4 separate regions of the Homo sapiens genome follow, and all the other regions are linked to region 3. Evidence: fine-mapped expression QTL. A gene starts in region 3. Each other region holds a variant in brackets. All regions are shown on one strand. Distances are from middle to middle. Region 1 overlaps LOC105377509 (a long non-coding RNA gene). Region 2 holds the start of LOC124900801 (a long non-coding RNA gene). Region 3 holds the start of GASK1B (golgi associated kinase 1B). Region 4 overlaps TMEM144 (transmembrane protein 144).

Region 1 (8,110 bases), 210 kb before region 3:
CCAACTGAATTTTCTTTGTCATCAGCCACCCACATAACCTCTGGTGGTTTATTACCCAGCAGAAAACAAGTCTGCAAAATGTCAGTGTCACCAAATTGTAACAATGATCTATAATTTTGATAAATAAGGTTGATATAATGGGCTTATTGTTAAAAATCAACTAGAAGTTAATATATAAATATAATCCAGGTAAAATTATCTGATAAATAAATACCATCATTAAATAGTATTGGGAACATGATCCATTATGATATCATCACGTTTCCGTCCCGGTTGACATTTAATTGGTGTTTGCAGATAACAGTAGCAAAAGCTTATTAAAAACTGAAAGTATTTCCACACATTGCTACAGTTGTTCCTTTTTCTTGATTTCTAGAGAATGCTCCAAAGTTTAGGAGAAGATGGAAGAATTGGGGAGTAGGAGACAGCAGCAGAGACATCCTGGAAAGGTTGGAAAGGACTGGCTAGAGAATTGCAATCATCATGGATGACTGAGGTGGACATGCCTAAAGTTATGGAGAAAAATACTTAGAAGAACTTTTAGAGAAGTAAATAACAGCACATGGTAATTCAGATACAGCAGAAAAGTTAATGTCTGAGAAGTTTCTCTACAGCAAGGGTACTTGACAGCAATGGTGCTAATATACATCCCATTTTTTTTTTTTTTTTTTTTTTTTGCCTATAAAGCTCCTGCCTACAGAAAGAGAATAATTCAGAAAGCAATGTAGTCTACAATTTACCAAGAAGAATTGGCAGAGCAAAGACAGAAGCCTCACCAAAATGATGACATTATTCACATTAACACATAATGGCTCTGTGTGTTATTATCAGACAACCTATCTCTACTGAAAGTGATGCTCATTGATAAAAACTAAATTAGTAAGCCAGCATACTAGTTTGTGTTTCAAGCAAGCTTTATAAAACTTTTATTTGGTCAAAGCTAGTATAAATGTTCTTATCCAAGTCAAAGAATTTTGGAATTACAAATAAAAATCCCTACCTTAAGTAAAAATGTTTAATTGAATTAGTTTTATTTAAATATTTATTGCTAGCAATTTTATAGGAATGATTCTCAGGCATGTACAATTGCATTAAATCACCATACCAAAGTTAGTTTTCTGTCATATTTAAACAAGTCTGCCTTTGAAAATACATATATTTCAAGAACATTCCTTGAAGTTCCACGTATTTATGGTAGGCTTTTCAAACTATAACATTAAAAAGTCTATATGTATGTATTGGTGTGCTTAATTTAATCACACCTGAACAACTCCAGCACGCAAATAAAAAACAAAACTGTTTTAAAGGTGTATTGATTAATGTTAGTTTCAGCTATGAATACTAGAAAACTTAGATACTATAGCTTTGATAAGTTAGAAGTTTAAGCCCCATTAAAAAAGTAGGCAAAGGATATGAACAGACACTTTTCAAAAGAAGACATACATGCGGCCAACAAGCAAATAAAAACAACCTCAATGACCACTAGAGAAATGCAAATCAAAACCATAATGAGATATCACCTCACACCAATCAGAATGGCTATTATTAAAAAGTCAAAAAATAACACACGCTGGCAAGGTTGTGGAGAAAAAGGAATGCTTATACACTGTTGGTGGGAGTGTAAATTAGTTCAACCAATGTGGAAAGCAGTATGGCAATTCCTCAAAGAACTAAAAGCAGAGCTACCATTCGACCCAGCCATCCCATTACTGGATATATACCCAGAGTAACAGAAATCATCCTATCATAAAGACACATGTACGCGAATGTTCATTGCAGCACTATTCATGATAGCAAAGACATGGAGTCAACCTAAATGCCCATCAATGACAGATTGGGTAAAGAAAATGTGATACATATACACCATGGATTATTATGCAGCTATAAAAAAGAACAAGATCATGTCTTTTGTGGGAAAATGGATGGAGCTGGATGCCATTATCCTTAGCAAACTAACACAGGAACTGAAATCAAAATACTGCATGTTCTCAGTTATGAGTGGGAGCTAAATGATCAGAACTCATTAATACAAAAAACAGAACAACAGACAGTGGGGTCTACATGAGGGTGAAGGGTAGGATGGGGAAAAAGAGCAGAAAAGATAAATATTGGGTACCAGGCTTAATACCGGAGTGATAAAATAATCTGTACAACCAATGCCTGCGAAGCAAGTTCACCTATGTAACACAGCTTCAGATGTACCCCCAAACCTAAAATAAAAGTTTTAAATGAATAAATAAAAAATAAAAATAAACAAGTTAGAAGTTTAGTTTCCCTCTGGATTTTCACAGTTTCAGGGCAAGCAAAACAGCCTGCAATGCCCTTTGTAGTCCTACAAAGCTGACAAAGGAGTTCTGAAAAGTCTTCAGACACTGGGACTTGTTACACTTTTCTCTTCTGTTATTTTAGGATACAGCCCTCACAATCATACTCCAAGATGATAATCCAGCCATCACATCTATGTTCCAAACCACAGGATGGAAAAGACAAAGACCAAAGGGCAAATATGTGCACCAGCTGTTTCTGAGGGGATACTTCTAGAAACTGCACAGATCACTTCCATTTATACCCTATTGGCTAGAACCCAATCACCAGCCCTCACCTAGTAGTAAGGGAGAAGGGAAAATACAGTTTTTGTTTTGAAGGCTGCATCCCTTGATAAAATTTCTATTTCTAAGGAGGAGGCAAGAGATACTGAAGAACAACTAGGTTAGAATGACTTTTCCCATATTTCCAAGTAAGGGTTTTGCCCGTTTGATAAGACCATGATTTCCTCGCTCTAAAAATGCAGTCTCATGCAGAAATGAGAGCATCAGATTGCTGAGCTGGATAAAGAAGTTGCACAAGAAAATTTAATAAAAAAAAAAAAGATAAAATTAGCCTGACATCCTGTTTTAAACCAAAGCAGCTTAACTGGCATTTTTTGCCTGAGGGGAAGTTGGACTACAGTCAATACTGAATTACCTTTGATCTATGGAAAACTTGGCCTTCACTCAAGGCACAGATTTGACAGCTTTTAACCTAAGTTTTGAAACCACACTCCAATATTCTATATGCAAGAGTCTTCCCCATTGGCAAATACCTTCCTTAGAGAACAGCATTAAGGTGAGCATGACAAGAGGATTTTCAAGTGCAGAGATTTGGAGGGCTGAAGCCTTGGATGTCATTCATTGATGCATTACTAAGGTTAAGGCCTAATGAGCAGACAACTGTTGAGCAATTAAATCAGCTATTTTTAGATTGTGCTACATATATCAAAGGCTGAAGTCTATCTAAGCTTTGGGATAATTATCAAAACCCATTCAACAGCTTCTCTTTCTTCCTGATAGCTACCAGGCCTTTATCGCTGATTTACACTGTCATATGCAGTTTTAAAACACCAGGGAAAATTTCCTTCCTTTTATGCAGCATATAATTTCCCACTATTCAACCCTAAGTCTGTATTCAGTTTATGGTGTTATTTCAATAAAGCTCACCAATGACTTCTATATGGTGTTCATATTCAGCAACAAGTAGCTTTAATACTTGATGACATCTCGGTAGAGACGGGGAGAAACTGTATATTTATAGTACCTTTCCTCTCGCCTTCACTTTCCGCTATGGTAACAAAGGCTGGGGTGGTTATTTTTCTCATTATTTTCCCACTGTGACTGTGAGCAAAGTATCAGACTCTGCAACTTGAATTCAAAGACATTAAACTACTTCCTAAGTATACCCAAAGAATGTCTAATAAAAACCAAAAGCTCCACGAATCTGGTGAGGACTGTCTAACAACACACAATCTGATGAAACTCAAAAGGGCAAATATTCAGAAAACAGAGTGGATTCTAAGTACAAACAAGCAAATGAAGTATTTTCTTGAATGATTGGAAACCATATCTATGACTTATCTCCAAGACTGGTTGGCAAAGTAAAAGAATTTTACCTACTCAAAAGCAAAATACAAATCAAAAGGTAAAAAAATCCATAAAATAGGAAAAATAACATAGACATGGTACCCAACATTACTGAAATCAAGTATACAGTTTCACCAGCACTAACAAAACAATTCGCATCAAGAAGGGTGGGATTTGTTAGAAACATGATAAAACTTCCTACTTGTTGATATTTTACTTGGTCCCAGATGAAACATTTATTTTCCTTTAAAGTCATGTATGCTATCTATAATCTCAGGATGCTATTGAAGTATTTATTAATAATTCAATACACTCCAGCATAAACCCTGATATACCTTACTCTTTCCTGTTTGTTCCCCTTCTTCCCACTGTAGTATCATGTATCTTTTTACAGTATTCCCAAATATATATCATTTCTCCCTTTACCTACAAGACTTAAAAGGTATATAATGGTGACTACAATATTGCATTTCTTTTAATTGTTGCTTAACTAGATTTTACATATGAAATTATGTGCTTTTTCTCATGAATCAATACTTTTTGCCTGTTGATGAAATCAACAGCAGTGTTAAATTATTAAAATATATTGAGGCAAACTTGAAGTTGCATAATTTAACACTATTTCCATAAGAAGCCAATATGGGCTACTGCATCATGCTTTTCAGGGACCTGAGTTTTACAGTAGTGACTGCCTGAAAACATTACGCCAGGTTAATAATGTTCAGGGCTTTTTCCTGAGGCAATTTAAAATGAGAACATTTATTTTTATTCTCCCCAATGGAGCCAGAATTACATTAGGCATACAGCTGTAACTTT[T/G]TATTCTCTTTTATCCTGACAGGTGGGGTGACAGTGGCTACTTTCCTCCCAAGTAAATCACATTTGACTATAAACTAATGAGGTGATGAAGGCTTTCTCATCAACACCTTTCTGTTACGTAGCATCAACTTGGCGTGTCCTGATGAGCAAAAGTTAGATGGGGGAGAAAAATACACCTTGAGGAACAACCAAACAAAATATAATTTCCAATCTACACAGCCTCCTTGAAATAACAAAAGTAGTCAAATTTTCTTTCCAAAATTAAAAAAGAAGCAAAAAAGTATATAACTTCTCTAAGAAAGAAAGGCATTTCAAATACCTTATTCAACTTTTACTTTCATTACTTATTTATTTCATTTTTAAATAGATGATGATAAAGAAGTATGCCTACTTTGAAGGACTGCTGTGAGAATCAAGTAAGATCATACATTAAAGTTCTTTATGAAAGTTAAAGTACTATGTACACATTAAATTAATATTATTTCATTAAGAATATGATAGCAAGACCTGGCTCAGTGGCTCATGCCTGTAATCCCAGCACTTCAGGAGGCTGAGGTGGGCGGATAACAAGGTCAAGAGATGGAGACCATCCTGGCCAACATGGTGAAACCCTGTCTCTACTAAAAATACAAAAATTAGCTGGGCATGGTAGTGCGTGCCTGTAATCCCAGCTACTCGGGAAGCTGAGGCAGGAGAATAGCTTGAACCTAAGAGGTGGAGGCTGCAGTGAGCCAAGATCACGCCACTGAACTCCAGCCTGGTGACAGAGCGAGACTCCATCTCAAAAAAGAAAAAAGAAAAAGAATATGACAGCAGAAGCTTCTTCTTTTTGCCCACGCAATGAACACAGTAAGTAGTCAATGTATTTTTAAATAATTTGGTGGCAAAAGGGCCTAATTTCCATGCTTTGCTGAGTTTTCCTCTTCCTTGCTTCTGGAGGAGCACAACACCCTTTTAGTATTCATCATGAATGGCTAGAAATAATCCCACTTGTCTATCCCATTACACATAGTTTATATGGTTTCTTTTGTTTGTATTTAGGTTCCCAGGCCATGTAAAAGCTTCTCAAAATCAAGAAACATTATATATCATTTGTATATACAACTGTATATCATTGGACTGCATGGCATGCACAAAATCAATTCTCATTCTGTCAATAAAAGCGGCTACACAACATATTTCTTTAACCATATATCTTTATTTCAGAATCCAAACAGTGTAGCAAAAATATAACTAAGCTATAAAGGATCAGCCCCTTCTTCAGCCTTGATGTGCCATGTTCTTTCTACTTGTATACTCTTGATTCGTAGCACAATAGAATATATGTTGTTTTTAGGGTAGTAATGTCCTTCCCCTTACAAAAAGACAAACTCTTTTAGTATTACAAGTGGATCTTAATAATGGAAGGATGATTTTAAAACCACCTGATATTATAGTGCCATTCATATAACTAAAGCTCTCACTCCAGTAATATCCCATAACTTTAGGTTGTAGAGAATCAGGCAGATTAATTCTATTTCTTCCAAACTCTACTCTTACTTTCCATGTAACTTTAATGGCCCATTTATAATATGAACTTTTCAGAGAACTAATGAGACCCTGGTGATGTTTACTTTATTTAATTCTGATTATCACATTCAATAGCACTTATAAGTCATTTCACATTTATTAGTGACTAATATATACTATGCATAGATATTTAATGTAATATGTCATAAATGTCTAACATATATTATTAGTAGCTGGATTCCCCAACTGAATTCTGTATAATGAAGTAACAAGGTGTTCCGTGGCTTATTAGTAGTTCTTTACACATAAAATATACTCAGCTAAAGTGTGTTGGTAAAATCCATGATGCTGATAATATGTTTCTTTTTGTTTGGTTGATTTTTTCATGTATCAGTTATTTAACTATGTTACTGGTAAGAAATTTATAATACCAATTTCTAAGAATAAGCTTCGTTTTTCAGGCCAAACAGGTTGCAGGTATCCCTGGAGCTGAGGAATAGCTTTGGTTTTTGGTAAAATTTGCGGGTCCACAGCTGCCTGGTCAACCTTGCCCTGCTCTGTCATCTCATATTTCTTTCTTTTTTTTTTTTTTTTTTTTTTTTGAGATGTAGTCTTGCTCTGTTGCCCAGGCTGGAGTGCGGTGGCGCGATCTCAGCTCACCACAACATTCGCCTCCTGGGTTCAAGCAATTCTTGTGCCTCAGCCTCCCGAGTAGCTGGGATTAGAGGCGCCACCATGCCTGGCTAATTTTTGTATTTTTAGTAGAGACAGGTTTCACTATGTTGGCCAGGCTGGTCTTGAACTTCTGACCTCATGATCTGCCCACCTCAGCCTCCCAAAGTGCTGGGATTACAGTCGTGAGCCACAACACCCAGCCTTCTCATATTTCTTTCTTTGTGCCAAAGACGTCACCATCTGTTGTCTGGGCTTCCACAGCTGTTTCTTCCTGAAGTAAGCCTCAGTAAGATGTTTTGAGATTTCCACATTGCTGATATCAATTTTTGTGGTGGTGGTGATGACAATTTCTTCAGTGCTCTACACAGAGGAACTTGATTGAGGATCCAAGTTTCAGTCAATAACAAGCAGCAAAACACTGCTCAGCTGCTTCAGGAAAACCACCTGTTTGCTTCGATGGCACCCAGTGAAGATGAGCAGAATGTTCCCAGGAGAGATGATGGCTCACAGTTTTCTCATATGCTGACTGGAGTGTTTTTTACCATGGCTCAATAGCCCTAAAGGCACATCATCTACTGATGTGCCTAGGCATTTTGCAAAGTTTAACCACATGGGTACCACTATTCTGGTCACTACCAACTGGTTTTGTAACCATAGCAAGGACCTCCTTCTCTTTCTTTTTAATCCTGGATTTATCGGCTGAGTACTTCCTTTTGCCCATGGCCTTTCTGGAATACATAGCAGATCAGGAATACCTGCGAATTCCCCTGAAAAAGGCAAGATCTCAGTTGCGGTGGGACTTTGCCTTCTTGGGCATTTTAGCCTTGAGGTCACTTTTTTCAACCTTCCCACTGCCATCAGCCTTCTTGGCTTCAGGCTTGTTTATAAATAAGCTATTTTCCAGATGTTCCAATAAGACTCTTGAATATCTGGGTGAAAAGGAGATTAAAGGCTGGTAGTCACAGGACAGAAGAGCAAAATATAAAGGAACATGAACTAAAATTAATGGCATGCTTCTTTTCCCTCTACTTTCACAGACTTTCATTAATGTAAATAAGAAAGTGTTTTTAGCTTCTTTTAAATAAAGATATTGGTCTATAAAAATAATTTTCCTTAGTATCCAGCTTCTCAGTTGTTTCCACAACCATCTTGCAAGATGGGGACGGGCCTGATAATATGCTTAAAAAACAAAAAGAAAGCTACTAATATAACCA
Region 2 (8,110 bases), 160 kb before region 3:
TTTGTCATACTCTGGATTGTCTTTTCTCTCACGTGCCATCAGAACATACAAAAGCTAACACTAAGAATGGAACAATGCAAATGACAAACACTAAATTCATAATTGGAAGAATCAAGGAGGGAGGAGGACTCTAACACTTCGTGCTGGGTAACACTTGTAATTTGGTAACGGAGGTTACAAATAGGTAAATTTACACACGTATTAGCTTGGTGTTCAGAAGCTATCCTTACTGAGACAATAGAACTAATCGTCTTGAATTTAAAAAATGTAGAATTGTGGCATATGCTTGCTAGTTCTTATGGTTCACTGTAAGTCTTCTTTTTAAAAAGAAGCTGACATTGAAATCTGTTCCTCTAAGTAAAGACAGGAAGAAAAAAATATATGGCTTTACCAAGAAATACCTTTCTTGCCTGAGACTTTCCATTCGAGGTCACAGAAAAATTTGAAAGTTCAGACAGCTGGATTCTCTCCTCCAAACTAAAGTTATTGCCAGCAAAAGCAGGGAAGTAGGAGCAATCACAGGAGGTAATATTAAAACCAGAGAGAAGCCATCCTCCTCAGGATTCTTCGAAAAGCTCCTCTTTTAAACTACACTTAGAGGGATGGTCACCTCAGTATAAAGATCCCACATCAGCCCCAGTCCTTATGTTAAATGGCCCAAGGCAGGGGCAAGATGCAGATTCTCAGGGTAAGGAAGATAGGCAGAGCAATGTGTCAGGCGGGTATTAATTAAGAAAAACATGGGGCCTAGTTCTCATACAAAGACCAGCTTGAGGAGATTTCTGGCCTTTGGCACTGGCCCATGGAATTGTCTAGAGGACAGATTGAAAGTCCACTTAAGTTTTAATGGAATTGTCCTATCAACACTGGAATAAAACAGGCTGCAAGTACAACCACTAAAGCATATCCCAAATTCCTAATCGGATAGCAAGGGAAACAGATGGGGGATACCCAACACACACATCTCACACATGACCACTGAGGACAAAAATAAGGAAAACTATAGAGTAAAATACAACTAGGGTGACTAATTCAGGTCTGCTGACAAAAGAACTTACAGTGTCAGGGAAAATGGAGCAAATAATCCTTGCTATTCTTTTTGAGCCAGATAGGCCACCGTGTTTTGTTTCCCATTCTTTCCATCCAATGGAAGTTTTGTGGTACATATTTGTATTTTCTATCAATGTGTTTTGCATATGACAAAGATAAACTCTCTACTTGTTTGATGATGCTTGATGACCATGAGGAACTACACCCAGACCTGATGAGAAGGAATTAATATTGACCAGAGGCCATAGACTTGGAGTGAATGTAGTAACTGGGAAAAAGGAATTTAAGAATAAGGTTCTGTTTGTACTTTTGCTAGCCTAAGGGATGGATTATAGTTTTTTTTTTTAATTTGCCAGGACCCATGCCCCCTATATTATTCAAATGTAGCTCTATTCTCAACTTCAATGGTAAAGTAGCACCATACACCTGGCCAAATGGTGCAGAGCAGCATTGGATCAGGAATGGGCAAGTGACCAAACTGATTCAATGAGAAGAAATTACAGGTCAAACATGGAAGGGACCTGGTTCAGGATACAAGGCAAAGGCCCATTTTATGATGAGGAGAGTCTGTAGCTGAATATGAACCCAACAGAGGGGAAGCAGAGCTCAACGATGAAGAGAAAGAAACTGAGTCTTACTAATTGCATCAGACCCTGAATTGAGAGACTGAAAGCTTACATTTATCTAACTCTGGATTTTTCAGTAACATAAGCTAATTAATTATCTTTTTAGTTAGACACGCTTGAGATTGAATTTGCATTCACTTTGAACAGGAAAATAAAATCCCAACTAACTTTCTGAATTTATTTCTCCCTCCCCCTTGCACAATTTTATACCATAGCCACACCAAGCATAACCAATATTTTCACCTTTTAGAGACTTGGTTCTTATTAGGCTTCTGACTGGATGTTTATTTCTCTTCCCTCCCTGGAAAACTTCTATTTACCCACTAAAGCTCAGCTATCTGTTTTCTTCCTTTGTAAAGACCTCTCCAAACTTCTAAACAGATTCATATGTTTCCAAAGTCATCATCATTTCTAAGACTACAACAAAAACATGTGATCTGCTGTGTATGTCTCTCACATATGATACAGAGGTTTCGTCAATCAGCGATGGGGTTTTGTTTTTCACACTGTATTTGTTATTTTGGCTTTAAGCAGAAAATTACTATACAGGATTTAGAATAATTTGTAACAAGGCATTGGCAATAGCAGTTATACTGTTATTTCCAAAATGTGTGGTCCTTTTGAAAATCTTTAAGTATACTACTTCTTTTCTAAGCAAGAAAGTTATAATTCTTGAATAACTATGCTTATTTGTAATATTTTCACACAGAGTAGAAACTGGAGTGTTACGGCCTAAATATATTCAAATTTTGTGTGCTTTGTCTCTGTTGAGTTCCACCAGAATTTCTTTTTTTCTTTTCATTTACTCCTATATCAGTACTTCAGTTGGCTAAAAATAACACTTTGCTGAAGGCTCATAAACAAGAGTATTTTAAGGCGGACAACAAACTATTTTTAAGGTGCATGTTTTAAATGCCTGACTTTGGATGATGTGCCACCTACTTTAATGCTCAAAAGAAAAAGTGACACAACTGTAGAAATAATTATCAAACTATTTTAAGTATTATACTGGTGGCCAAAAGAGAGAACATTTATTTTTAAGTTAGGATGTTACAAAAAATCATATCCTCTTTTTCCTTGAGTTCAAGTTTCATATGGTGTTTTATAAGCTGTTTTTCTTATGCTTATGGCACAATGCTAACTGTTTTTATTAGGAAATGGCCTCCTGGCTAAGTGCCTACTCATTGTATTACAGCATTTTCCCTCAGCTGTAGCAGAACAACAAACCAACAAGTTCACACTTCCTTATTAATTCTGGAAAACCCTTACCATGCATAACACAGCATGAACCTTTTTATATCTTGACAATTGCTGGAAGTGTTTTATTTTATAACAGAATTTTAAGAATATCCTAATTAAATAGCAAACAGTGGTTACTATGGAAACCATGTTCATAAGTTTTATAATTGTCTTTAAAAATGTTAATTGTCTTCCAAAGCTGTGACTTAGGCTATTAATAACTTGTAAACCTGTTGTTTTTCTCTTCTCAGTGGTTTCTTGCTTTTTGAATACAG[C/A]ATTATAGTTTGATGAAAGATGATATAAGTGATCATCTTTAAATTATTGATGTTTCCCACAATTTATGGGAACAATTCAAATCTCTTAAGTCGGTTCAATTATGTTTAGCCTAAGGCCATCTCCTTACATATTTTAAGTTCACCCTAAATGTTTCTCTGTACATCCTGAACTATAAACTAAATGGAGTTGTAACCTACTCTTAGGCCAATCACCAAGTTTTGGCCAATCAGATGTGGCCAACTGTTCAAACCCTGTTCAAATAAGGCAAACACCAAGCTGTAACCAACCTAGCTGTTTCTGCACCTCACTTATGTTTTCTGTACATCACTTTGCTTTTTCTGTCCCTACATCCGTGGCTGTGCTGAAGTCATGGAGCCTACTCTGGCTCAGGAGGCTGCTGATTCATGATTCACGAATAGTTCTTTGCTCTATTAAACTCTCTTAAATTTAATTCAACTAAAGTTTTTCTTTTAACAAGTCTTAAAAGTGAAGCTGGGAAGCTTGCACCTATTAGCATCCAAATGGAAACACTTACTTGTGCTTGGGATAGAAACAATGTCAAAATAAGGAAAAGTGTGGATTAATAGAAAATAGATCTTTAGTGTATTCCTACTTTAGTTGCCATCCATTTGCTCCTCCATTTTCTATATTTGTATAGGTTAGAACCTCACACTTTGTATGTTAAATATTTGCAATGCCATGTAAAAGAAAGAACCTGGACATATACTAGTCTGCATTTGATTTCTGACTTCCTGTCTATGTGACTTTATTCAGTTAATTTAATTTTTCTCAACTTCAATTCCATTGAATACAAAATGGGAAATTGATACTTTTTGTATAAATTTGTTATGAATATATTAGAGAAAATGAATTGCACATAAACAAAAGCCTAGTGACAAATAAATGGCACTCATAACAGATCCGCAACTAAACATCAACAACAACAGTAATTATCAATTGTGAGTACTTTCTTTGAGCCGCATCTTTACAAATGCTATCTATTTCAGCTGTCAGGTAAAGATTAGCAAATGCTATTGCCTTGTTTTTGCTGCTGTTTTGTTTTGCCCTTATTGCCCCAAGTTTACACATAATATATTCTCTTAAGTTAAATTTTTAGATTGGGAGAAAAGGTCACTGATATTCTGGAAAGAAAACAAAACAAAACTTAAAAGGACTACACTCATTCCAACCTCCACATCCGCCTGCCAAGAACAACAAACCTCCCTTCCAGCTTCTCCCTCCTGAGCAGCTGACATAGTTTTACCATCAGGCTCTGTAGCCTCCTCATTCCCCAAAAGTTACACATTACTTCTTTGTCTTCACTGTGCCTCCTCTCTGTCCCTTTCAGAGTTCAGGCAGCTACCCCTGCCTGATATGCCTCTCAGTCGATATCAGTTGTTGTAGACATATCTTTATTTGTTTCGGTAAGAAAAGCTTCAGATTGACCACTAACCAAGGATCATGGAGAGATTCACTGGCCCTCTCAGGGCCTGCTGCTGTTAAGTTTTGGGTGAGGTCTGTCCGGTCTGTTTGCCATTTCCATCCACCAACCCCATCTATTCACTGCCGACGTGCATGGGCATGTTGCCATGTCAGAGGTACCACAAGAAATATTTATCTTCTGAGGCTAAAAAAAAGCATAGAATTATTTCCTTTTGAAATTGATGAGCTCCATTCTTGGGTCATCAGTTTTGAACTTGACACAGCAGAGAAACAGAGAACAGTGGCTCCATTTGTCGGCTGCAGCCTTGCTCCTTGACAAACCTGAGGGCAAGTTCCTCAGGCTTGTTGAGAAGGTTTGTGCTCCAATCCCTTCAACCTTGCAAACTAAATGACATATTACACACATTTTAAAAATGAAGAAAAGGAAATAAAGAGTGATAAAGTAACTACCCATGATCATGTTACCGGAAAGGGGTCCAGATCCAGGCCCCAAAAGAGGGTTCTTGGATATCACGCAAGAAAGAATTTGGGGTGAGTCCACAGAGTAAAGTGAAAGTCAGTTTATTAAGAAAGTAAAGGAATAAAAGAATGGCTACTCCATAGGCAGAGCAGCGGCATGGGCTGCTCAACTAAGGATACTTACAGTTATTTCTTGATTATATACCAAACAAGGGCTGGGCTGTTTATGAGTTTTCCTGGACAGGGGTGGGCAATTCCCCGAACTGATGGTTCCCCCCTTTTTAGACCATAGAGGATAACAACCTGATGTTACTATGGCAACAGTAAACTGTCATGGTGCTGGTGGGTGTGTCCTTTAGCATGCTAATGTGTTATAATTAGCATATAATGAGCAGTGAGGACGACCAGAGATCTCTTTCGAGGTCATCTTGGTTTTGATGGGTTGTAGCCAGCTTCTTTACTGCAACCTGTTTTATCAGCAAGGTCTTTTTGACCTGTATCTTGTGCCGACCTCCTGTCTCATCCTGTGACTAAGAATTCCTTAACCTCCTGGGAATGCAACCCAGTAGGTCTCAGCCTTATTTTACCAGCCCCTATTCAAGATGGAGTTGCTCTGGTTCAAACACTTCTGACAATCACACAGCTAATGCGCTGTTCCACTACACCAGTCTGACTCTATGTAAGCACTTAATACATAGTTGTTAAATAACTAGGTGTGCTAGATTTGGAGCAGAGAGCTGAATATGTAAAAATGAATACAGCCTAAGCCCTCAGAGCATAGGGCACATAAGTCTGTGTGAGGGAATAAATAGGGTAAGTTCATAACCAAGCAAGATAGATAGATAATAGATAGAGAGAGAGATAGACAGATTTAATGAATCTATCACTATAAGTGCTTTGAGAGAAGTCTCTACAGTGCACAAGGAGAGTATAAATGAGGGAATGGCATTTCTTTGGAGGTTAAGGTTTAGTTTTCTAAAGGGAAATGATGGCCAATGTCTGCTTTTTGTTTACTTTTTTTGTTTTTTGGGCTTTTTTTTTTTTTTGAGATGGGGTCTCATTTTGTCTCCCAGGCTGGAATGCAATGGTGTGATCATGGGTCACTGCATCCTTGACCTCCCTGACTCAAGCAATCGCCCGTCTGTCTCAGCCTCCCGCGGTGCTGGGACTACAGTCATGAGCCATCATGTCTGGCCTGCCAAGGTCTGTTTTGAGAAGAGTGAATATGGGGATCTTACACTGTGCAATATTTGAAATATCTAGAGGAAACATTATATAATGCAGTAGAAAATGCTTGAAAAAAACGTGAAGTATCTTGACAGCCCACTAAAAACACTGTATGATTTGTTTTGCCCTATATTGCAGTACTTCGGTGGCTTTAGCTGAATACGGTTCATCACAAGCCAACCTGTTAACATGCAGATGTGAACAAATGATCAAATAGAACTGAAGTTTATGGCCATTGCTTAACTCTTAGAGAATAAAAGGCAATAGCATTTCCCGATTATGAAGAATTCTACCTTTGTAAAAAATTAAACAAATGAAATTGTATCACTTATTTTCTAAAGGAATAAATTTAGAAAATATCACCTTTGGTCATAGTTGTCACCAGAACTGAATTTAAAATATTCATTCACTATCATTGCAGCCTGTACAGTCACTACAGTCTATGGTTTAAATATGGCCATTTTAAATTTGGGGGGTTTTGTTTTGATAATCACAAATAACTTTGATAAATGGTCAAATTTCACTTTTTTTATGTTTACCACATTTATTGGGTATTTTCCAATGTACCAATGCTGAGTCTTTTGGAACTGTCATTTGTAGCTGGTGCTTGTTTGACATGTGGAACCCAAAGACAGCAGAACTCTCTGTGGTCCCCATCCTAGTGCCCCCTCCCCACCCCTGCATCATTCCTGTGCCCCTCTAGGGGATGTGGCCAAGACTTTTGGAAGCCAGTGCCTTCCAGCTATAACAGTGTTGATATTCTGATATATTTACCAAGGCTCTAGTTTATACACAATCAGTTCTTCTCAAGTTGCCTCCTGCACTTATCAGTGGGACTGAAACACAACATAAAGACTACTGTCAATATTAAAGTTTTTGGCAAAGAGTGTGCACCTGAATCATCTTCTTTGTGCAGGGAGGTAGGATTAGGCACTGGGTTTGTCACAGAGCAAGCTGTTGTAAAGAAGTGAAGTGGATCCTGGAGATGGTTCTGTTGCAGTGGCAGTACAGTATCTCACCAGGTAGTGGCTGGAGTTGGCTCCAAGTCTCTGGCAGGGGAACACCTTGACACACGTCTGGGGTCGCTGGCACTCCCTTCCTCTCTGACTCCAGCCTTAAGGTGAAGAATTCCATGTAGCTTCTTGTCCTTTCCCCTCAGCTGTCTTTGCTTCACAAGGTTTTAGCCCAAATAAAGAGTACAAATCCCAAAGCCACATAGAAATGAACTTTCTGCTAACTGGAAGCTTTAAGTGAGTAAAGGTACTTTATAATGAAAAATGCATACATTTAGTTTAGGAAAACTGAGATGTTAACATGTACCTGGTGAAATAAGAAGAAATATCATCCTGATAATTCTCAAATTTTCTTCCCCTACAAGCACTGATCTCTAGCAAAGTGGGAAGAATATGTAAACTTCACTGTCATCATATAACATATTTCTGTTTATTAGGTGATTTTGTAGATAGTTTCAGTTTCATATTTAATATTATTTTATTTTCTGTTTATTTTTTAAATTAATTCTTGGCTCAATTTGGATCATGTGCTTTTAGAAAATTATTTTAATTATGATAGGAGACTTAAGTTGGTTATTTAGAGAGGACTCTGTTTGTTTACAGTTTTATGATCCTTCTCAAATGCTTTAAGAAACTGAAAGCCTGTAAAGCTTTCATGCATACTGTGAACTGCACACTTCAGTTCACAGAAGAGATTTAATTAGAATATGTTGATGATGAGCAGTCCATCTTTTTCATGTAGTATAATTTATTAGACATAAAGGTGGCATTATTTAT
Region 3 (8,110 bases):
ATTTTACAGCTGAGGAAACTGAGGCATAAAGAGACATGGCAACATTTCCAAGTCGTATGATTGGTAAGTTCAAACCTAGTCAGTCCAACTCCACGGCCCAGGCTCTTAGCCACTACTGCATTCTCCCAATACAGTAGTCTAAGAGCGTCTAAGGGAAGCTCAAAGGACATATCAGAGAACTCTGCCTCAGGATATACACAGGAGTTCATCTTCTCCTCTCTGGGGCCTTTATGACATGAAAATGAATGGGATTTCAGCATAACAAGGGGGATCCTGTGCTCTACTCTGCTCAGAACAGTCAGTGTGGGCCTGTTGTCCCAATGCCCACCAGCATCTCCTTTCACGCCACACGGTTCCAGTTTGGATAATAAGTTACATATTCACCTAAGTCCAGTGGCTAAGAAGTTATGTTCTGAAGTTTGCTGGGTCTATAGTCAAAACCCAGCTTAGCCACCTACTAGCTGTGGGAGTTGAGGCCAATTACTTTGTCTCAATAAGCCTCAATTTTCTCATCTACTAAATGGAAATAATAATAGTCCCCACTTCATAGCATTGTTATGAAAATTCTAGGAGCCAACACATATGAATCAATTTGTATAATCCTTAGCAAATTGTGGGCACCCAATAAAAATTCATTTTTATCAACATTAGATTAAATGTTTGAGAAGGTTTCTTACATTGGCATAACTGTGGTGGACTGCTTTATAAACTTGAGACATCAAAGCATACCTGTGAATCTGGAGCACTTAGACAAGAACCACCATCAGTAGGGAATGTCCAATTTTTCTAAGTAAATCACTGGTACTTCCAGGGGTATCCATTTTAAAATGAAATTATAATGCTAAAGCCATTGGAAATGCAGTTGGGTCTCAGCCACTCCCAGGGATTTTAATCCATTCCATTCTAGGCTCCCTGGGAACCTCACTGAAATGCTAAATTTCATGGTAACATGGAGAAAGTTAAGTATCCTTTCAGCTTATAATCTCTTTGGGGTACATTTTAGCCTCTTGGGCCAATCTGGATTCAAAGTTGTAACTTCTGGCATCATTCTGCATTCAAACATAAGCCACTGACTCACTGTACTTTGTATTCGAGCCCTGGAATAGCTTTAATATTCAGAGAATATCCTTTATATGGCATGGGCATGACCGCAGACCAGTCCTTTTGCTGGCAACTGCAGTAACTGGCTACATGTGTTAGAACCTGCCAAAATGTTTGTCACCCAAGACGGGAGAATCTTGAAAGACAGACTCAATAGATCATAGTCAGGGGCTTGATAAAACCACACAGCTAGTTAGTATACATACTGAACAAATCACCAATTTTTGCTCATTCTTTTTATTTGTTAAATAAAGAGGTTAAATCCATTGAAAAAAAAAGGGGGGGTTAAACCTAACATGGTCTGGCTCTGCGCGGCTTAAGAAGATTCCATCTGCTCAAGAACGATAACCCGCTTCCCCCTTACTTTTAAAAACTTCTACTTCCTCCCATAGTAACCTATTTAATAGTATGCCTGACTGTCAGCAAGTTCTTTGCCTCCAGCCTAGCTTCCTCTCCTCATCATGCAAATTGCCGTTGGCTTTAATTAGATTTAATAAGCCACTGGGAAGTGAAGCGAGGGAAATGGAGAGCAAAGATTATACAGTATGGGCTTACTCTTGCATGTCCAATACAGCATTTCCCTGGAACTCTCATATCCTCCCAGGCTGGGAAAATAAAGAATGCCAAGCGCATGGAAAGACACGCTGCTGCTGCTGCTGTCCAAATGTGAACCGTGGGTGGAGAAAAATCATTTAGAAAAAGAGAGTGAGGGAAAAAAGAAAATGAACCAGAATCCCCAACAGCTGCAAATAACGAAGCATGTGAATCTGTTACCTTGGATGAACTCTGCTTTCCTGCTCACAGACGGCAGGGTCCTGTTGAGCCCCAGGATCCTGTCTAGGTGGAAGGCAAACACCTCACTCATGTCCAAGGGCTGCTTGAGAAGCCCACAGGGGCTAGGGCCACAGCGGAGCACAGCGCCAGGTGCGCCCCCCTCCAGCACCAGCAAACGGGCTCCGCTCCTAGAGGACACAGGCCGGAGCCCTGCCACTGCGCTGTCCGCCAAGAGTCGCATTCTTCGGATGTCATCTTTGCTCAGCCAGGAGGGGGCGCTCTCGCTGTAGATCCTAATGTTGCTCTCCCTGGAGCTGGGCTGCAGGAAGTCTGGGCCCCCGGCTCGCACTCCCGGACCCCGCACCAACCTCCAGGGTCGCTCTCCAATCTTAACCAGGTTTGCTCCCTGAGCGTACCCAGGTGCTACAGCATCAGCTTCCCTTGCCGCTTCCTGCGGCTGAAGGGATGGTCCGACCAAAGCCTCCTGCCCTGGGGCAGCCGATGCCACTGCATGCTTTTTCCTGCGCTTGGGCTTCACGGTGCCACGGATATTGGCCGGCTTGCTGCGCTTGGAGCGTAGGGTAATGTACACCACATTGGGCTGCAGAGTGGACCCATTGCCCTGGGACTCTGGAGGGGCCAGGGTACCATCCAGGGGTATCTCAGGGAAGGATGGCTCGGCGGTGTCGCGGCTGCGATGTGGCCCCTTCTCAGCCGCCTGTCCATGCTGGAGAGAGGCCCTCCCCACCTGGCTCACCAGGAAGCCCAAGTAGATGGCACACGCAGTGCCCAGCAGAAGGTTTCTCCGGGTCCTTGGACGCCGGCTGCTCCAGAGCTTACGCACCCGCGGGACGCACAGGGAGCAGATGAACCAGTTTATGAGCTGCCCCGGCTTGTCTGGACAGGTCATTTCTCTGCCGCATCCACATGTTGAACGGAGTTTAAAGTCTGCAGTTGGCTCCTGCTAATGTGATGCATGGTTTCCTGACTTCAGCTGCCGCGTCCGCTTCGGGATATAAGTGGTCTCCAGTGGGCAGAGGTGGAAGGAAAGGGTTGGTGATGAAGCTGGGAATGTTTCTGACACAACAAACCTTTTAAATTATCAGTCTCCCCAAGGAGAAATGCGGCTTGTTTCTGGGAATGAATGGATACAGAGTTAACTGAGTCACAATTTCAAACCATTTAAGTTCCTCTACAAGAGTCAAGAAAAAAAGTAATCATTTCCTTTCATAAATATCACCACTAAATGTTTTTAAAAATAAAATTTAAAAGCATGCAAACGAGATAGATGTATAGATTTGATAGTCACTTGAAAGTAGTGAAAACAAGCCACAAAAATCCAAGAGTGTTTTATAACTTGTACCTAGAGTCATTTAAGTTGACTCTGAAGCAAAAGCGTTAAAATGTGACAAACCTGGGCTTTTCCTTTTTGAAATTCAGAAAGAACTTAAGACAAGTAATAGATAATTTTTTAATACTCTATACCTATACCATTTTTATTTTTTAAAGTCCTGAATTAACTAAGTACAAGCAGCAAGTATTAACAATAAAATTTAGAAACATATTCTCTTAGTCTAAAGGTACAAATTGTACTTCATATTAATAATATGTTCCATTAGCTTACATTGTTAGTATAATACAAAGCCATAAATGTCCATATATCTTGGAAGCAGTTGCATTTATTCTGTTTCTCTCTCTCTCTCTCTTTCTCTCTCTCTCACACACATACACACACACAACACAACACAACTCTGACTGCTTTTTATTTCTTTTCTTTCCACCGAAGTCAGCTGAAAGAAAATAAAAGCATCTCTAGTTCTGTTTTTTCACTATTAAAAAGAAAAAGAAGAAACTCGTAAGCAACCTTACTTACACAGCTGGCCCCATGCTTGGCTCCAGGAAGAATGTAATCCTTGACTCTAATGCAAAGAACTTTTAAAGGCTGAGGCATGTAAGTAGAACATATTTCATGGTCAAGAGTGTTCCACATTTCAAACATTTCAGTTCAGCTTTAAAAGCTCCCTTGAAAACTACTGATTGCAAAGCAAAACTTGGAAACTGACTGCTGCATGGTTTTAAGAGATACAAAGCTTTTAAAAACAATAGTTAACAAAATAAACTTTAATTTTAAATTCGGAAAAAAGAAATGCCGTAGAGAATCAGTTTTCATTCAAATAAATTTCCACTTATTTTTAACCCCTGGGAGCCCTCTAGTGTCCTGTTCGCAAACAGACTCAGAAATGTCAGTCTCATGAAGTTCAAAAGATCGAGAATGTTTGCTATCTTGGTGGAGCAGCCGCAGCCAAGCAAGTAACTTGTAAAATGAGGAATGCCATCACCCCTCGAGTGTCCATCCCACATAACTTGGGGTTAGAGCACAAGCGTTCCCAGGAACTACTCACCTTACCATCTTGGCCGTTTCATTTGTCTTCCACCAGTTCTGGAAAGAGAAGGCCTAGAAGTTCAGAAAAAAAGGTAAGAAAGAGTTAATATAAATGAGGAGAAAAAATAGAACAGTGAGATAAGAGTACACACAGATAAGGAAAGACATTTATAGTGTGCAATTGCACGGTGCAACAGTTCACAAAAGGAAGTCGTGGATTCTCTCTGATTGGAGGTTTTTTGAAAAAACAGGTTAGGGATTGGCCTGGGTGGTTTGCGTGTCCTAGCACAAAGGCAGGGGCTGATGACCTTGGGGTGTCAATTAGACTATGGCAAATAGAATCAAAAGGCAAGAAGACAGAAAGGGGACAGGGATTTTTCCTCCCCACAGAGAAAGAAAGTTGTGATACTGAAGAGTGGGTAAAAGATTAGCATATGGTGTATAATCCTAAAAATACTATATTTTACAATGCAAAAAGAGCAAGGAGTTGGAATATATAGGGAAGGAGAGAATAAACGTCCAAGTGGTAAATTGACAAAAATTATAATCGGGCTGTTATTTCAGCACTCTAAACTCAGTCCTTTTTTCCTCTTTAAAAGTCCTGCCACATGGAGGAATGAGAAGGAGCAATCCCAATATTGACAGTAGCCTGGAAGTACCTGGATATTTTGGCTAAACTTTGTGAGAATTCAGGCATCAAAACAATTTTATCTGCACTCAAAAACTCTTAGGCACACACTTCCATACACACAGAATTATTTTCTTGATAGAAAATGTGAACTTCTTGCAAGGAAACCATACCAAAGCTGCATTTTATAACCATCTTATTATTTCCACAGTCAAAGGAATAACTGACCTGGCTCTATAACAATTAAAAGTAAGCCTTTGGCAGAGGCCAGTTATAATAAGCAGACATCTCCTCTAGCTGTTTTTAGAGCTATTTTTTTCATGGAGAAATGCCTACGAGATAGGGAGAGTTGTGTGAGTTAGTAAATTTCGTTGACTACCTTCCCACCCCCACTCCAAAAATGTCTCCTAGAAAAAGAACAATACACTGTCCCCTGCTATAGCCACAATAGGGATTCGTGGAGGCTACACTATCTACTCTGAACTATGATATTCAGAGAATGGGCTGAAGAGGGAGGCAGACTGGCTTTAAATTCTCCTCATTTACCTCTTACGTGTGGTCCCCTGTGGCAAGTAATCTTACCTCTCTAAGCCTCAGTTTCCCCCATGTGTAAGAAAAGAAAAATAATAGCACTTACCCTATCGGTTTCTTCTGATGACTGAATGAGATAGCAGCCTTGGAATGATCATTTGAAATATTCAGCAATGTGTTTGTTTTTATCCCCCATGATGCCTCATTAAACTGCTCAGAGGCCTCTCTCCTCAGCCCAGGCCTTGACAGATAGTCACCACTGCACCACAGCAAAGCAATCATGGTAGAATTGAGGACAAGCACACTGAATTATTTGTAGCCAACATATTGATATAGCCAATACAGTGGATAAATGGGGCTTGTCAGATATAATCAGAGCACAATTTTAGTGATTCCCCCCACTGCCCATTGAAACCTGTTCTGTGGCCTGATATCTCTTTTCAACTTTCTTAAATGGAAACTCAGGCAGTCCCCATGACTTTTCCAGTCATACTTAAATTTTTGTAAAAGTTCTCCAGTTGTTAGCCATAGACATACAGACACATAATACACATAAACTAATTAATATGTTTGATTCTATATCACAGTCAATTTCTTTAAAAATTTCTTTTAAATTCCCAGAATTTCTCCAGAAGATAGCAGTCCCTCAAAAAGCATAGCCAAAATCTACTGAAAAGGGACAGAGGAGACCCATCTTACATTCTTTTTTGTTCCTGCCTAGAGCTCTTATTCCTTAACCACTCACCCAGCCGCTCACCCCACTTTGAGCCTGGCTCTGGCTGTTCCAAGGTAGTGGAGAGAGAGAAGCAATAATAGCAGAAATGGCCTTGCTACTCCATTGATACTGCTGCAAATTGACTTATAAGCTCTCCAGGTTTGGCAGGTGTGTAAAGCTGACTCTGAGATAGTTAATTCAAAGACACCACTATCAAAGCATCTCTCTAGCTGGCTGTTGATGGCCCCTTAGTCCCTTGGAACTTGGTAGCCCCCTGTTCTGTTGAGATCACCTCATCTCTCCAGGCTGTTCTCTTAGGCAGCATTTAAGCTGACCTGCAGGCTGGTTTTCTAACTTGGGCCTCTGTGTACTGCCCCACAAGTGATCCAGTGGACATGGTCACCATCATTTGCTCCAGCAACCTCAGACTTCCCAATGCAGCAACCCACCTCCCTTAGCACTGCGGATCCATATCTCATTTTCGAATGTGGAAGCAATTGCCATCAATTGCTCATGGTCTCTGTTGAAACTGAATGGAAAGGTGTTTTTTGCCATCAGGTAGCATGGGAAACAGAGAAGTTTAATTTAGTTTTAGAAAAATAAGGCTAAATTCCTTGAACAAGCGTTAGCTTGAAAATTTGTTGCCACAATATAACATTCGTGTATAACTTACAATATAATCTGTGAGTGAACATATAGAACTCAAAGTATTCATTATTATTAATATTATTAGATCAGAGAGACAAATAATTCTCATGCCTAAAGTACTTTCTCTTCTTAAAAAACAATGAGAGAAATAAAGTGAAAAAGTAGACAGTAAGATAATGGTAGGGACCATCGGAATTACCTGAGGACTTTTTATATCTTTATGGAGGGGCAAGGATGGTGATGGAGAAAAAACATGAGCAAAGCAGGATTGTGGGAATGTTCTGTTTCTTCATTTAGATGGGATTTACCTAAGTATGTTTATTTTGGGATAACACATTGACTATACATTTGTGATTTCTGTACTTTTCCATATTTATATATATCTTATCCTTCAATCAAATTGGAAAAGGTGGTACATAAATAGCTATTTATTTTATATTCTTTATACCTTGTATATATGTTATAAATCTACATAGGAGAGTAGAACAAATAATTTGTTTACAATAAAAAACGCATATTACTTCAGTCATTTAAAAATTAAGTTTAAATATTAAAGAACAGTAAAATCCCTGAAAATTTTAAAAATATATGAGTGTCTAGACCCCATCCATCTTCCCAGAGATTCTAAATGATCTAAAGTAGGGCCCAGGAATCCACAGTTTTAAAAGCTTCTAATGTGCAGAGTTATAATTCACTGTACTATGAGTTAAATACTTAGTTCTAGGAGCAAGTTAACACCTTTTTACAATTAAATGATGTCTTAGGTTTCACTGGCAATGAAGTAATCCGTAAATCCTTCAAGGCTTCCAATAGTAAGATCCTAGTTTGGTAAAGGCTATTTGCCTTCAGTCTGGGACAACTCCTGGACCAGATTAGATAGTGAATCGGGCCTCATTCTTCCACCCACAGCACTCTCATTTCCCCCATTCCTGTCAGGTGTGTCACTTGCTGTGACTGTGTGGCAGCTTGCCCATCTCCTGAGAGCCCTTGGGAAAGTGAAGGACAATATATAAGGACTCCAATCACTTAAAAGCTAAGTATTAAGTTTTTCCTTGCCACTGCTGACCCAGGTTTGTTGCATAGATTGCAGACCTGGAGATGGATACCTTGTTCTTGGTTCAGTGCTGCACAGACTCCTCCACTGGGGGACCCTATCCCTTGCTCCTCATAGTCCTGATTTCTAGGACCCATAACCCTATTATAATTAAAATCCCAGCATTAGCATAGGTTCCTGGCTACAACCTTTGTCCTACTTATTGTATGGAATTTGCTAATACCTTTGCTATCCATTCCAACACCAGGCCTGGACAGCACCAAGCTGCCCTGCCTG
Region 4 (8,107 bases), 76 kb after region 3:
GCCACTGCCCTCCAGTCTGGGCAAAAGAGCGAGACTCCATCTCAAAAAAGAAAAGAAAATGGGAATGCATTCAGGTGAGTAAAGTATTTAATATGTTTGTGTTATTATCTGAAAACTGCCTGTGGTGCCTAGGTCCAGGGCCAACAACTCATGAATGGATTTGACAGATAAAATGTTCAGAATGTGATAATACCTAATTAGGAAAGAAAATACTAGAGCTATGATAATTATAATGTAACATCATGTCTCTCTCCACCCCATCTCCAATGGAAAAATGCTGTCGTTGACTTAAATTTCCCTGAAGTGATTTTAAATAACCCAGTGAAATATGAGAGAGGGAAATTTGTTTAAAATATGATAAACAAGATGAAAGATTTTTTTTTTATCCTAAAGGTTAAAGTATCCCCTGAGGTAAATCATCTTTGGGAATAGATGTTTATATTGGTTCCTATGTCTCCCAAAGACCTCCATGTCAAACCAGCAATTTTGTAGGAAAACAGCATGGTAACAGGAGGCTATTGCCATTTCCTTTTCAAATGTAAATGATGGGAATTTAAAATTGCATTCATCAAATAGTTCTAGTAAGAGTGTGTGTGTGTGTGTGTGTGTGTGTGTGTGTGTGTGTGTGTGTGTGTGTATGTATGTTTTCTTTAAAAATCACTTTGCCGAGCATGGTGGCATGCATCTATATTCCCAGCTACTCAGGAGGCTGAGGCAGCAGCATCACTTGAGCCCAGGAGTTTGATGTCAGCCTGGGCAATCACAACGACAACAAAAGGTACAGTCTCAAGAGTCCAACTGGGTTCAAATCCTGGCTCTGTCACATACTAGCTGTGTGACCTTGGCCAAGTTTCTTAACCTCTCTGTGTGTATAGTCCTTATCTGAAAATGGGGATAACCAACCAAGAGAGCTGAGAGAATATGAGTAAAGTGCTAAAAACACTACCAAGAACACAATAAATGCTCAGTTAATTTTGGGGGTGAGGGTCATATAACCTAGCCCAAACTGTCGATAGCAAAATAAAACAAGTTAGGAGCAGTGGCTCACACCTGTAATCCCAGCACTTGCGGGAGGATTGCTTGAGCCCAGGAGTTTGAGACCAGCCTAGGCAACATAGCAAAACCGCTATCTCTACAAAAACAATTTAAAAATTAGCCAGGTGTGGTGAGGAACACTTGTAGTCACAGCCACTCAGAAGGCTAAGGAGGGAGGATTCCTTGGGTTCAGGAGGTCAAGGCTGCAGCAAGCCATGATCATACCACTACACTCCAATCTGGACAGCTGAGTGAAACCCTGTCTCCTCAAAAAAGAAAAAGAAAAAAAAAGAAAGAATAAGAAAACTCACAAAATCAGAGAACTTCTCCCCTTCTAGCCAGGCATGGTGGCATCTACCTGTAGTCCAACTATGCAGGAGGATCACTTGAGCCTAGGAGTTCAAGTCTAGCCTGGGCAACATAGTAAGACCCTGTCTCCCTAACAATTTAAAGATTTTAAAATGTTTAATCTTTTTTTAAAAAATTGCTTTGGAACTTTTCCCAGTTACCTTTACTTGTAGAAAAAGTCTTCAGTTGAGGAATATATGCAAATACTCTTTTATAAGAATTTTTATTAAAGACAATGTTGATCCAAAGACCCCTCCCCAATCAAGTCATCATAGACCTGTCTTAATATGCAGTTGTAGTAGCAAATAATTCCTGGTTCTAAGGAGATTGATGTTGCTAATCTCTAACAACCATAAAGTGAATGTACTTCTACCTGATCTTTAAAATGATTATTCAATTTTAGATTTAAAACATCATTTCAATCATTGTAAATGAAATATTTTGATTTAAAATCCATTATTTGATAATACAAGTAACATTCTCAGATTTAAAAAATAATAAACTTGTTTCAAAAATATGTGGACTATGATCAGAATTTTTATTTTTTTTAAATACACAAGAACAACTTGAAACATTTATAAACCTCTAAGTTACTTTCGTGAACATTTCTCATTTATTGTAGTCAGAGTTCCTTTCTACAAAAAGTAACTCTATGCCCAAAATATGTTGTAAATCTCTCTGCATATATTTCATCTACCTCACAAAAAAAGATTTATTTATATTAAAGAATTGGTTATTATCTCATGTAAGATGCTGAAGCCTTAGAAAATTACAAATTAGTCATCATAGTTTATTAGTAATTATAGGTATGAAGAAGTACAAACCAAGTATAGATTTATATTAAAGCATTTGAAAATTATTTTGGTCATGACTACAATAATAATACTGAATTGAAAATCCTCTTAACTACATATAAGAACCCTATTCAAAGAGAATCCCTAACCAAAAAGCCTAGTATTAATTGAAAAACAGTGAGGAATGTTTTGTTTTGTTTTTGGTAAAGACATCTTTAAAAAGACACATCAGACTGAATAGAAAAGTAACTTTTAAGATTAATATACTATGACCCAATAGGGTTTAATTCAGGAATGCAAGGATCGTTCATAATACATAAATTAATTAATATCATTTACTCTACCATATCAAATATGAAAAGGACGTGATAATACTATACTAACCTCTTAATAAGCTAGAAATAAAAGGAAGCTTTAGTGGTACAGTATGTCTATCAAAACAAAATAGCAATTATATACCTGAGTTTCATGAAACATAAGAGTTCTCCATATATTGGAAGTCAAGGATTTCTCCATACTATTATACGATATTTCCTATAGATCTAGCTAGTTTGGAAACACCAGAATAAGAAATGAAATGAATAAATATAGGAAAAGAAATAAGAAAATTATAATTTGCAGATTACATTTTTAAAAAATGTACACATTGTGATTTCAATTTATTGGTGACAAAAATTAAAAATTAAAATAAAAATTTAAAAGAATCAGCTGAAAAATTTAACATCCAATAAGATCATTTAGTAAGGCTTGAGATATAAAATAAATATGAAATCAGTTGCCTTCCAATGTATCACCAACAACCAGTTAAAACGAGGAAAATAAATGCTATTAATAATAACCACAAAAATTACATAAAATCTAATTAAAGAATTAACAAGTAATGTGCCAGGTTTTTAAAATACTGTATTTTACTTTGCTACAAACATGTACTAGAGGACATAGAAGATCAGAACAAATATAGGAGACTTGTCACATTTCTGATGGAACATCTCGCTGTTATAATTAGGTAGTTCTCTCTAATTACGTTCAGTATAATTCCTGTAAAATCCCAGTGAAGCTCTTTCTAGAATTTTTAGAGTAGGTCCTAAAGTTTGGCTAATTATTTATGTAAAAATAGGCAAAAAAAAAAAAAAGCATGACAGCACATATACCATATTTCTGAAATGTGCAATTTAGATTAGCTAGGCCAGTTTTCTTATAAAATAAGGATTTCTAAACTTAAGAAAATGACTGTTTGCTCTTTTCTGTTTTAAAAAAATGACTAAGATAAGATTACAAGTATTAAAAGAAGAGAGAGGGCCAAGCTGAAAGCAAAGAAT[T/TA]AAAAAAAAAAAAAAAAAAAAAACCTGGGGCCAGGCATGGTGGCTTATGCCTGTAGTCCCAGCACTTTGGCAAGCCAAGGTGGCCAGATCACTTGAGCTCAGGAGTTCAAGACCAGCCAGGGTGACATGGCAAAACCCTGTCTCTACAAAAATACAAAAATTAACCTGCTGTGGTGGTGCATGCCTCTAGTCCCAGCTGTTTGGGAGGCTGAGATGGGAAGATGGCTTGAACCTGGAAAGTGGAGATTGCAGTGAGCCAAGATTGCACTCTGGCCTGGGTGACAGAGCTAGACTCTGTCTCAAAATAACTAACCACATAAATAAATAAACAAAAAATCTTATATGTCATCTACAAGCAAAATTTAACAGATGTCCAATGGTACTTATTCAATGCAGACACCTAATTGCCTCTTGACAGCTGATTTAAAGAAAAATTTTAAATACTTACATGCCAATCAGTTTAGAAAAGCATCATCAACTGAACACTAAAGCCTAAATATCATAAGAATAATTTTTAAAGTATTTTTGTAGAAACAGGACAAAAACCCCTAAACTCTAAAGAAGAAAACAAAAGCAAACCTGTTATCTGCAGGACTCATAGGTACTGTCAGTTATATATCTTAAAGCAGTCCTTGAAGACGCATATTTAAAAGTCTACAACCTACAGCTGCGAGGAATAAAGCTGAGAGCCAAGCACCTTTTGTGTGAAGGACTTTAATGATTCCATTTAGTTTTAATGCCATCAGTGCATCAGTTGGATGTTTTCATACTTCTGATACTCTTTTTTGTTTGTTTGTTTTTTGAGATGGAGTCTCGCTCTGTTGCCCACGGTGGAGTGGAGTGATGCGATCTCGGCTCACTGCAAACTCCACCTCCTGGGTTCAAGCGATTCTCCTGCCTCAGCCTCCCGAGTAGCTGGGATTACAGAAGCCCGCCACCACGCCCAGCTAATTTTTGTATTTTTAGTAGAGACGGGGTTTCACAGTGTTGGCCAGGCTTGTCTCGAACTCCTGATCTTGTGATCTGCCCGCCTCGGCCTCCCAAAGTGCTGGGATTACAGGCGTGAGCCACCGTGCCCGGCCCTGATATTCTTTTATATCTGATATCTGTTACTCATTGGGAAATTCATTTTAGATTATTAAATCTTTAAGCTAGATATAAATTATATTTTTACCAACACACTTTAGTCAGTATGTCTACAGTAATGCCAACACAGGCAGTTACTACCACAACAATGTATAGGTCAGTAAGCTACTCCCTGGTGAAGAATGAGATGATCTATTATCTTAGTAGAAATCCAAGTTAAAAAACTTTCTGCTTTGGGAAGAATGTTAGTGTGCTCTTTCCAAGAGTTAACATCCACCTTTGATGAAGGAAAACCATTGCTGTTGCCCAACTATAATTAGTCTTTTTCTCTAGGAGACTGGACAGTTTTAGCAAAATCTTAACATTGAAGGGGAAAAAAATTTTTCATTCCCTGAGAACATTATTCTTCTGTCTACATAGGTAATAAAATAGCGCTTAGCAATGTATTCACGTAATTAGATTGTAGAGTGCTTGTAACTGAAGACCCATTTTTTAATTTAAGTAATTGCATCAATTTCAAATTCACAAAATATACGTGGAAATCACCTTAGTGTATTTGTTGTTTGAACAAATGTTTATGGAATACCTATTCTGCATTAGTACCAGTATCTAGGTGAGAATTGCAGTCTTAAAAATTAAGAAAAAAAAAGGTGCTGGGAAATCCAAAGCCTACTGCCAGGTGTGTGTGTGTGTGTGTGTGTGTGTGTGTGTGTGTGTGTGTGTGTTTAAATAAGCTGTTCTGCACTTGGCAAGGTTTTCGGGTGCTTCTATTTGTAGAATTTGGGATTAAAGTGGCTTCTGTTAGTGCTAAGGATCACACTGAATCAGACAATTCAACTGGCCCCAACCTAACTTGCAAAGACCTATCTCTGGTCATCAAACAGAGGCAAATTTATCTACTCTGATTCTTTAAGTTGAAGAAAGGGAACATATATATATAATTTAGTTAGTAACATAATTATTTGATTTTGTTAATTAATACATAACATATATATATATATATATATATATATATATATATAGTTACATATTAGTTAGCATTAATCTTACGAACTAATAATACAAAAGACCTTTCCTTGGCAGTTTTCACATTCCCTCCATCCTGGACTTTGTTTCTGTTCTGTTCAGATTTATTACACAAATTTACCTCTGATCTCTGCATTCTTCCAGTAAACTAGAAACACAAGACCTTTAAGGAAGTGTGAGGGAAGTAGGCAAAATGAAACCAGACAAAAGTCCACTCTTTGAAGTGAGAATTTCACTGTGGAGCCAGGAGAGCCACGTGTTCCTACTGTCAACCCGTCTATCCTGCCCCAACCCTGTTTCCTGTGGGAGCCCAGTTAGAACTTCCCTTTCTGGGTTTCCCTCAAAGCTGACCTGGCTGCAAGGCAGCAAAGACAGAACCACCCTCTACCCTCTGACCCCTTGCATCTATGCTGGGGGAAATGAGTCTCCCTAAGCCTACACTTTGCATGGCCTGGCTGTAGGAACCCAAGTTTGGTGCATGTTCTTCACTGAGTCCTTGAGTGAGCATTAGGGGAGATACTCATGAATCAGATTAGCCCTGAGGATTAGCCTCTAACAGCCCAGGGTCCTGCTTTTATGAACCCACTCCCCCCAACAAGTCAGTCAACTCTTGCACCAAAAACACAGCATTCTATTCCCACTACCTTTCCTGAAGTTTTGCCCAAATTTGGGTAGTGTGAGGCTATTAACCTGTTGGACCTCAGTGGCCAGAATTTTCACCAGAGAGGGAGGACACCAGCCCTATTCCCTACAGATTTGAAGCTGGCAGGATACCAACTGCTGCCTAGAGTTGCTTCCTCTCCATTCCTTTTTTCTTTTTCCAGAACCCTTATGTGTCTTCTACAATGACTTACCCATGAACCATTGTTATTTTTCCTTTTAAGAAGGATCTAATAGTATTATTAAATAGTGTTATTATCTGATTGTAATCTTAGATGTATCTAAAATTAGAGAGGTGCTAGTCTTGTTTTACTTTGTAATGTTCAAACCTTCCCTTAGAATACTGGAGTCTTCCGCCTTGGATTCAGACTCTCCTGATGACCCACCCTTGGGACCCTTAGACCAGGCAGCCAGAGATTGCCATGCCCTCATTGGCAGAGCCAATGCCCTTAATCAGCAGGAAGTAGATACAGAAGACTGACTTCCTCCCACATCAAGCCTTAAGGATAAGGGATAGAAATCTTTAAGTGGGGGGGATGAGACAGGAATAATACAGGGTGGTCACAGATTAGGAAAATCCCAGGCAGCAGTTTCACATGACTAGCAAAAGGAAACTTGAAATAGCTGCAGAGGCCATGGGCTGATAAGACCCTGAAAAACAGCATGTGGATCAAGCTGGCTAAGACCAATTGAACCCAACATGGTGCTGGATTTGCCCTAGGTTTCACCTAGGACCTCATTATACACTCATTAACATACAAATCACACACCCACCAGCACCATGACAGTTCTGGGACCACCCATATTTGGTGTAAAAATGAGTGACACCACAGTTCTGAGAAATTGTTACCTTTTTCCAGGAATCTTCATGAATATTCCACCCCTCGGCTAAAGAAATGATGAAAATAGGAACCCCAACCCCCTTGTATGATTCTCTCTTGAGTATGTCCGCACTCCACTTTCTTGAGTGTGTACTTTTCACTTTGCAACAAGTCTCTGTACTTTCACTAAAAAAATAAATAAATTAGACTCTTTAAACATAAAGAAGGATATAGACAAAATGGCAGTCATTCAGGGGGAGCAGCCAGGACAATAAGGAAGCTTGAAACCATTCCATATGAAAAATGGTCAAAGAGCTAAAATACTGACCAGGAAAAGAGATGCCTCCAGGGATATATGAGAGTTATTTTTCAATGATTGAGGATTTATCTTGTGGGAGAGATATTAAAATCGATCTATCTGTACTCCTAGTGATGGAACTTATAGGAAATGAAATATTTCTACTTAACACAGGAAGATATTTCGTTGTTAATTCAAAGATGGGCTGGGCAACACAGAGAAGTGGTTCTCAGTAGTTCCCATCTTTAAGACCAGGCACCCCATACATAACTGAGCAAGTCCAACGAAGTCATTCTTCACACCCTCTCTGCATTTCTTCCTCACCCTTCAGATCCATCTCCATCTCTCCATCTACCCATCATCATCTTTTCCCTGGGAGACTACAGTCACCTCCTAATTGGTCTCCTTGCATCCATTCTGGCCCCTCCAATCTGTCTGCCATCCTGCAGAAAAGTGTGAGCTTTACACAATGCAAGTCTGAAATTTTAACACAGCCAGCTGCCTGTCTTTTTAATGTCTTCCTCTTTGCTTGGAAAAACAGGACCCAAATTTGAGAGGCAGAGGTGGGCAGATCACTTGAGGTCAGGAGTTCAAGACCAGCCTGGCCAACATGGTAAAACTCTGCCTCTACTAAAAATACAAAAATTCACTGGGCTTGGTGATGCATGCCTGTAATCCCAGCTACTTGGGAGGCTGAGACAGGAGAATCACCTGAACCCA

What was found.
Region 1: its variant is fine-mapped to the expression of GASK1B in whole blood (INTERVAL, PIP above 0.99).
Region 2: its variant is fine-mapped to the expression of GASK1B in whole blood (TOPMed, PIP above 0.99). The same link has a PIP of 0.9 or more in blood mononuclear cells.
Region 4: its variant is fine-mapped to the expression of GASK1B in whole blood (INTERVAL, PIP 0.92).

What each region holds. Positions count from the first base shown.
Region 1 is chr4:157,961,793-157,969,902 of GRCh38, forward strand. The region is part of intron 2 of LOC105377509 (a long non-coding RNA gene); the gene reads right to left. It also overlaps the pseudogene RPL6P11. Among named protein-coding and RNA genes, the nearest start is that of GASK1B-AS1, 200 kb to the right of the region's middle. The variant T/G (reference allele first, on the strand shown) is at 4,713.
Region 2 is chr4:158,004,312-158,012,421 of GRCh38, forward strand. The region is part of intron 1 of LOC105377509 (a long non-coding RNA gene); the gene reads right to left. LOC124900801 (a long non-coding RNA gene) reads right to left here and starts at 5,444. Exons shown (of 2, transcript XR_007058348.1): 1 at 5,278-5,444; 2 at 4,587-4,818. The variant C/A (reference allele first, on the strand shown) is at 3,191.
Region 3 is chr4:158,168,591-158,176,700 of GRCh38, forward strand. GASK1B (golgi associated kinase 1B) reads right to left here and starts at 4,435. Exons shown (of 5, transcript NM_001128424.2): 1 at 4,278-4,435; 2 at 1,876-3,009. The coding sequence starts at 2,785. GASK1B-AS1 (GASK1B antisense RNA 1) reads left to right here and starts at 2,162. Exons shown (of 5, transcript NR_147410.1): 1 at 2,162-2,890. LOC101928007 (a long non-coding RNA gene) reads right to left here. Exons shown (of 4, transcript XR_007058350.1): 3 at 5,524-5,676; 4 at 5,098-5,218. RefSeq lists enhancers at 1,918-2,438, 2,612-3,811.
Region 4 is chr4:158,244,627-158,252,733 of GRCh38, forward strand. All of the region lies in intron 12 of TMEM144 (transmembrane protein 144), which reads left to right. Among named protein-coding and RNA genes, the nearest start is that of TMEM144, 38 kb to the left of the region's middle. RefSeq lists an enhancer at 239-740. The variant T/TA (reference allele first, on the strand shown) is at 3,497.